Regions from separate parts of the Homo sapiens genome. Here all the other regions are linked to region 1. Evidence: fine-mapped expression QTL. A gene starts in region 1. Each other region holds a variant in brackets. All regions are shown on one strand. Distances are between the middles of the regions.

The links. PIP is the estimated chance that this variant, and not a neighbour inherited with it, causes the effect.
Region 2: its variant is the best candidate, but not a certain one, in a credible set for the expression of OGT in aorta (GTEx, PIP 0.56).
Region 3: its variant is the best candidate, but not a certain one, in a credible set for the expression of OGT in sun-exposed skin (GTEx, PIP 0.70).

What each region holds. Positions count from the first base shown.
Region 1 is chrX:71,532,000-71,534,704 of GRCh38, forward strand. It overlaps OGT (O-linked N-acetylglucosamine (GlcNAc) transferase), which reads left to right and starts at 1,105. Exons shown (of 22, transcript NM_181672.3): 1 at 1,105-1,337. The coding sequence starts at 1,301. RefSeq lists enhancers at 156-1,355, 856-1,195, 1,021-1,679.
Region 2 is chrX:71,577,480-71,579,979 of GRCh38, forward strand. GCNA (germ cell nuclear acidic peptidase) reads left to right here and starts at 958. Exons shown (of 13, transcript NM_052957.5): 1 at 958-1,043. RefSeq lists an enhancer at 1,165-1,806. The variant G/C (reference allele first, on the strand shown) is at 1,385.
Region 3 is chrX:71,552,343-71,555,047 of GRCh38, forward strand. It overlaps OGT (O-linked N-acetylglucosamine (GlcNAc) transferase), which reads left to right. Exons shown (of 22, transcript NM_181672.3): 6 at 2,171-2,250. Among named protein-coding and RNA genes, the nearest start is that of OGT, 21 kb to the left of the region's middle. The variant C/A (reference allele first, on the strand shown) is at 1,594.

The DNA.
Region 1 (2,705 bases):
CTCAGAGATCCAACTTGTAGCCTCCAGTGGCTTGTAATACTTTCTTGCTGATGTGGCAAGCTACCTTAAGTCGTTTCTAGAACAAGAGGTGAAGTATAAATACCAATGTGACAAAATGTCTGAACAGTAGACTTGAAACTGCAGGAAGATCGTAAGAACCGATTTGTTCAAGGAAGTAGAGGCAATTCATGACTCAATCTAGACGTGTGGTTTAGGCAGATGGCAAGTGAATTCATTTATCATTGTTGATCTGCTTTGAGCTCAGTGGAATCGCCGACTGTGACAATGTGCAGAGCTAGCTGGTGGAAATGAAGTCACAACTCGAGGAGAGTCATGGATTTTGACGAACGTGAATCACCTTTAACATTTTTATGGCTGCCTTCGGAGTGCAAACGCCCAGCATGTCCCTGAGTTATTAAACATTTGCCCTATCACCGTGGGCAGGAGTATTCTGAATACCAAAACGATTTTGAAATTTCAGGCTATACGGCCAACATTGAAGGTGTCTGCATTCAACTGGCCCTGTGAAAGCTTCAGTCTTTTTCATCGAAGTGCTGAAATCGATGGCCGAGTCACAATGAAGACGGGCTCAAATCGGAACCCTCTCGCTCCTCGTTTTGAGCAGCTGTCTTTGAGAGGCAATCTTCTGAATTGACTGGCTCAGAATTGATCCGTGAGAGTCGTAACCATCCGTTTTTGTACGAATACAGTTGATAAACTTTTTTAGACGCCTTTGGCATTTATGTTTAAAACGACACCACCTGCTAAGTAACAAACACTCTTCTTAATCGCGGTGGCAAAAACGTATCCGTCCCGTGTGTGTTTGTTTTTACCCTTCCGCTACACTCTTAAGAAACTTGGCCGCTTCCGCCCCAGAGAGTGCCCTAACCACGAGTCGGGTTGACAGGGCTGCTCGCATGCGCGGTCTCCACCGTGGTGTTTGTCGCAATGGGCGCTGCGCGGAGGACTACATGGAATCTCGACTTTGCAGCTTGAAGTCATTTTGTTGGCGGCGCTGGTTACCGGCTACCTCCGCGCGGGCACTTGATTGTAACAGAAAGTAGTTCCGGCCCATGTTGTTTCGGCCGAGGAGCCGTCGCCGCCATTTCAAGACCGTACTAGGTAGATGGTCAATTAGAGTTCCCAGGGTTTGAAGCCTGTAACTGCTGCCGCCGCTCAAGCCCTCCAGAGCATTGCTACGGCTGCTGCCCTTGTACTACTACCTCCAAATACGTTCTTGCTGGTAGTGGCGGCAGCAGGACCAATTACCTCTTTTTTGCTCTCCCTCGAGAAGCTCCAGATGGCGTCTTCCGTGGGCAACGTGGCCGACAGCACAGGTACCGGTGTCCCGTTCTACCTTGGCAGATGCCCCCTTGGGGTCTCGCGCCGTCCTCTACCTTGTATCACTCCTTCCCTCCCTTCCCTCGAACCATCCCCATTACATCAGTGACATTGCTAAGCTTTTCGTGGTCTACTGGCATCTGATCACATCGGGTTTTCCGCTGTTGTCCGCTTCCCGAACATTTCCTCCTCCTCCCTTGCTTGCTTTTTGCTGCCTTTCTTGCTTTGTTTTTATTTCGTAAATGTTCTAGCATTCCACTCTCTCCAGGCGCTTTTATCACACGTGCGCGCTTAGAATGTCGTGGAATGGACTGCATTGGAATCCCTGCCCTTTCACTCCTTTGCAGCGGTTTTCTCCCCTAATTCCAGCTCATCGCCTCTCCTTTTTCCCCTCCATCTCCTCCTTCATCTCCCCCCCCAGTCTTTTCCCCTTAGCCAGATTTGGTCCTTCTCTGCCAATCTAGGGCGGGGGTGCCGTTCCGATGTAATCATATCCTCACTTTGCATCACCCGAGGACGATCAAAAGCTCGTCGATGGTGCCACAAGTCACCTCGAGAAGAGGGGACATTGAGCAGCACCCTGCTAGGCAGTGCCTTTCTGGTGTTCTTTCGGTTGAGCGGTCCCGGTTTAGATTGGAAATTTCCAGGGGTTTCCTTTGCCATCGCCCAATTCCACCGCTGCCCTCAGCCTGGATTTCCCACCCTGTCCGCGGGGAACCACACCCTTCCCTTCGCGAGGTTGCCAGCCCTGTTCACTTCCTATCCTTGGGGGAGAAACCACCCCGATGCTGCTGCTTTGGCGTTGACCACCCTGCCCGCCCAATTCTCGCTTTGTGTTACTTTCTCGATGTATTCCTCCGCCGCCGCCTCTGGGTCTGCCATCCCCATTCTTCAGCCCAGTATCTCTTTATTCACAGGGTGTAATATTCTTTTAAGTTTCCATCCCTGCTTGAAGAGTTTGTAAAGCAACTGGAGTGTAGCTGCACAAGTACAAGGCGGTTGCCCTTTTAGACACTTCAGTCGCGAGCATTTGGTACTGAAAATACGAAAACAACCAAATTGTAGGAGTGTCCTTCAGCTGCCTTTCCATATTGAGGCGATTTGGGCGGAAGGGGGTGGGGAATTGGGCTGCGCTTCTGAGGTTTCCCGCGAGGTTATTTTTTGGTTGTTTCTCAGTTGAGATGTGTGGAGGGTTTTAGCTACTGTTCCTGGAAGTTGTGCTGTAAGTAGTAGGTGAATCGTCAATAGTGTCTTATCCGTAATTGTAGGGAGTGGGATTAATAATTAGTCCGTGCTCCTCTCCCCACGTCTCCACCGTGATTTTCAAAGGTTTAAGATTCTGTACTGGATTCTGTACTAGCTTG
Region 2 (2,500 bases), 45 kb after region 1:
TGAGCCACTGTGCCCGGCCAGCTCTGCCACTTTCTAGCTGTGTGATCTCTAAAATGAGAGTGCTAACAGTTGCCTACTTTTTAAAGTGTTGTATGAATTAAGTCGTAAGACACTTGGAATAATGCTTAGCACAAAATAGTATCAAACGCAGGGACATTTTATGTGTGTTCTGTTACCCAAAGGCATACATTACGAAATATATAGATGCTCGCTGGAGAAACTGGCACAATCTAGAAAGCGCTGTTTTCCCCGTTTGTTTTTCTTGGTGTGTATGGAGTGAGTGCCAAAAAGCCTCAAGTAACCTTTTTTTATCTCCAGGGTTTGGAGGGTTCTGGAAGTAAACATCATAGTTCGCCGTTGCCAGGCGCTGTTGAGTTGCTGCCTTGCTCTTATCTAGGGGTCTAGATGGCCTTCCCTGCAACCCCCGCCCCCCTGCGCTCCCGCGTCCCCCCGCGCCCCGCCCTCCCCTCGGTGTTCCCGTCCACGCCCCTGCTCCCGCGCCTTCGCTCCAGTTCTCGTGCCCCCGCCCCTCCCCCCGCGCCCTTTCCCAGTGGTTGCAATAACGGACTTAGAGGTCTGGACAATTCAAGTAAGGAACAAGGCTCGCTTATCCAAGTTCTCGCAGGATAAAAGTTTGTTATGAACGATTTCACATGGTTTCTCTTTATCAGAAAGTTGTTAGGGACTTTTAATCGCAGAATTGGCCTCGGGTGCCCACGCTCTAGTATTGAAATGGCGGTTTTGGGACAAATAAGCAACATCCGTGGGAGTGGAAAGCGACAGACCTGATCCCGGAAGCGTTACAGCTAGGCGCCAAGTTCACAGGCGCGAAGTTCAAATTTGTCTTGTGACCACTGTGATAGGTGGGTACAGGGGAGCGCGGGCGAGCACACGTGAATTACTGCTACCGCCCCCTAGGTCCGGGCACTATAAAGGGGCCTGCGCCTGGCGTTGTTCATCGCAGTTGCTCCGGATCTTTGCACACACTCCACGGGCAGTTGGAGGTGAGCTGCTGCCGGCCACGCCAGAGGCTGCAACACCAGGTAGGTGACCGGCTGGTCGGACTGAGATGGGTGCTGAAGTGGTCCAGAGGTTAATCCTAATTGAGTGACTTAATTAAAATCAGGACCACTGTATACCTTGGACTCTGGTTGCCCGTGTAGGCCTGAGGTGGGAGTAGAGGAAGTGGCAGCGAGGGGAGAAGTGGAGGCGCCAGTGGTAGCATTGGGGGAGGTGGGGGCGCCCATGGTGGTGTAGGAAACATATGGTGGCGCCAGTGGCGGCATTGGGAGGGGTGGGGGCGCCGGTGGCGGCGTAGGAGCAGCTGGTAGTGCCAGTGGCGGCGTGGGGAGAAGGGGCGCTGGTGGCGTCATTGCAGATAGTG[G/C]GGGGCCTGGTGGTGGCGTAGAAGGAGGTGTTGGTGCCAGTGGCGGGTGGAGAGAAGTAGGGGCACCAGTGGCGGCGTTGGGGGAAGTGGGGGTGCCTGTGGCAGTGTCGGGGAAGTGGGGGTGCTGGTGGTGGTGTAGGAGCATGTGGTAGCACCAGTGACGGTGTGGGGAGAAGTAGGGGCACCATTGGCGGCCTTGGGGGAAGTGGGAGCGCTGGTGGTGGCGTAGGAGCGTGTGGTGGCGCCAGTGGCTATGTAGGAATACGTGGCGCCGGTGGCGGCGCGGGGAGAAGTGAGGGCGCTGGTTGCGGCACTGGGGGGAGGTGGGGGCCCCAGTGGTGGTGTAGGAACAGGTGGTGTCCCTAGTGGCGGGTGGGGAGAAGTAGGGATGCCAGTGGCAGCGTGGGGGGAGGTGGGGGTGCCAGTTGCGGCCTAGGAGTACTTGGTGGCGTTGGTGGCATAGGAGCACATAGTAGCGCTGGCGGTGTGGGGAGAAGTGGAGGCGCCGGTGGCCGCATTGAAGGTGGGGGTGCCAATGGGGGCGTTGAGGGAAGTGGGGGGTTCTGGTGGCGGCGTAGGAACACTTGGTGGTGGTGGAAGTGGCCTAGGAGCACGTGGTGGTGCTGGTGGGCGTGGGGAGAAGTGAGGATGCTGGTGGTGGCATTGGAGGTGGGGGTGCCAGTGGCTGTGGGGAGAAGTGGGGGTGCCCGTTGCAGCATTGGGGGGAGGTGGGAGCTAGTGGTTGTGGGTAGGGGTGTGTGTGTGGGGGTTGAGGTCTCTTTGGCTGAGGACTGAGTGGTGGTGGGAGACAGGAGTGGGGTAGGGCAGAAGTTGGATAGAAGTGTGGGGGAGTGGAAGCCTGCTTGGAAAACCGGTTGGGAGCAGTTGAAGGTGGCTGGAGGTGGTTGGAGGTGCGAGTGTGGGGGAAGGGTGGTGGGGTTGAGGCCTGATTGGTGGAAGACTGAGGTGAGAATGGTGGGGGTAGGGTCCAGACCTGATAGGAGGAAGGAGTTGGGGAGGGGTCAAGGCCTGTTTGGTCGAAGATTGGCTAGAGGCTGGAGGCAGGAATAGGAAGCGTGGAGGGGGTGGCCGGATTCATATAAGACCAGTGAGAAG
Region 3 (2,705 bases), 20 kb after region 1:
TTTGGATCCTGACTCAGTTAATGAGAAATTGGAGCACTGAATGGATTTTTTTTTTTTTTTTTTTGAGACAGGGTCTCACTTGATCGCCCAGGCTGAAGTGCAGTGGTGTGATCTTGGCTCACTGCAACCTTCACCTCCCAGGCTCAAGGGATTCACTTGCCTCAGCCTCCGGAGTAGGTGGGACTACAGGCGTGCGCCATCATGCCCGGCTAGCTTTTTGTATTTTTAGTGGAGACAGGGCTTTGCCATGTTCCCAGGTCTTGAACTCCTGAGCTCAGGCAGTCTGCCTGCCTCGGCCTCTCAAAGTGCTAGGATTACAGGCATGAGCCACCACGCCCAGCTGATATTTAATATGAAGGAATTGCTGTCTTTTTTTTTTTTTTTTCTGTTAGGTATGATAATGGTATTGTGGTTAGGTTGGGAGGAAAAAGCATTCTTGTGTTGTCCCTGAGATACATATTGAAGTATTTTTGAATGGAATATGTCTGGGCTTTGCTTCAAAATGATCTGCGAAGAGGGGGAGTAAGTTGGAGTATAGATTAAATAAGATCAAACATGATATATGAATTGTTGAAAATGGATAATGGAGACTTGGACGTAATGTTCCTCTGCTTTTGTATATGTTTAAACATTTCTATTATAAAGTTTAAAAGTTCTTGGGGTGGACATCTATCACTATAGACAATCTAAATTAAATGCATCATGCCGTGTTTACTACAGAGTTGTCATCTAAGTGAAGATGAAGTGTTCTTTCTTTATTTTTTTTTGAGACAGAGTCTCGCTCTGTCGCCCAGGCTGGAGTGCAGTGGCACGATCTCAGCTCACTGCAGCTTCCGCCTCCCAGGTTCAAGCAATTCTCCTGCCTCGGCCTCCTGAGTAGCTGGGATTACAGGCGTGAGCCACCATGCCCGGCTAATTTTTTGTATTTTTTAGTAGAGACGGGGTTTCGCCATGTTGGCCAGGGTGGTCTTGAACTCCGGGCCTCAAGTGATCTGCCCGCCTTGGCCTCCCAAAGTGCTGGGATTACAGGCATGAGCCACCGCGCCCAGCAGATGAAGTGTTCTTTATCAGTCTTTAATAAACATACAATTACTCAGTGTCTTAATCAAATACCTTTTCGGTGTGTGTGTTTTTTTTTGTTTTTGTTTTTTGTTTTTGGAGACACAGTCTTGCTCTGTTGCCCAGGCTGGAGTGCAGTGGCGCAATCTTGGCTCACTGTAACCTCTGCCTCTCGGGTTCAAGCCATTCTCATGCCTCAGCCTCTCGAGTAGCTGGGACTACAGTTGCACATCACCATGCCCAGGTAATTTTTGTATTTTTAGTAGAGATGGGGTTTCACCATGTTGGCCAGGCTGGTCTTGAACTCCTGACCTCAAGTGGTCCGACCTCGGCCTCCCAAAGTACTGGGATTACATGTGTGAGCCACTGCACCTGGCCGGTGTTTTGATTGAAGTTTGCATTTACCATGCTGTAGGAGTATCTTTCTTGATCAGTGTTTCTCTTCCTTGGTTATACATGAGGAGCTTATAAAAGATCTGAATATCCTGACCCTATCTTCAGAGGGTCTGATTTAACTGGCCTGTGATAGAGCCT[C/A]GGTACCTTTTCTAGGAGGTAAATTCTTAATATATTGCCAAGGTTGAGAATCACTGCTCTAGACAACATGACAGCTATTTGGATGACACCGTGTAATGGTTAGTATTTCCTTGAAGTATTGTATCTTACTGTGTATACAGCTCTAATTGCATGTCTTAATAAGGTCTTGCTGAGCATGTAGTTTGTATGCATACAACTGAGGTATATATTTACCTTTTCAGTAAGAGTTTGCTGCCTCTTTTGCCACTATTTTTCAGAAGAGTTAGACTGGTTAATTGTGAATAAAATAGGGCCAATCATTAGAAGTGTTCAGTTTAATGAAATTGGAGCAGGCCCAATATTTAATTTTTCTCTTCAGGACCCATTTTGCTCATGAGAACATGAGGCATGAGAAGTTATTTTGATAATGTTGAGGTTTGTAAAAATAATGAGAAGACACTAAATAAATAATTGGTTTATTAAAATGAAATGTAATTGAAAGTCTGCAAGGACCTTGGAGTAAAAAAATTGTAATTGGGAAGTTGATCTGGTGAAATCCTAACTTGCTCTGAGTAACTAACTGTCTTGAAATTTTTAGGCTGTCACCCTTGACCCAAACTTTCTGGATGCTTATATCAATTTAGGAAATGTCTTGAAAGAGGCACGCATTTTTGACAGGTGAGAGAATGTTCTGTTTAATAAATTTTCTTGAATCTTTGTTGTATTGACACTTGACAGTTTGGACCGAAATGATGACAATAGTCCATTGAAGCATATTTGCCTTTTCTAGCACGTTGTTCTCTGCCCATGTCCTGTGTTGCCTTTTATTTATAGATGTTGTTCGTTGCCTGACTTTTTGTTGTTGGCTTTCCTCAAAGCCGTTATCCTTCTCATTGGGAGTTTAGTTGAAATTTTTTTATTGTTAAAATGGTTGAAATGATTCTTTCTTAGACTAAATTATTCCTTTGACCTGATTTTAGAAAGCAAAGTAAATCCAGACTTTTAAATTTTTTGTTGTTGTCAAAGGAAAGCCTATTTTTTATGTGGGAGTAGAAAACTTCCCAGTGTAAAGACACATTTTATAAAGGTGTGATTTTGGTTTGAGGTTAAAATATAATACAGCATGAATTATG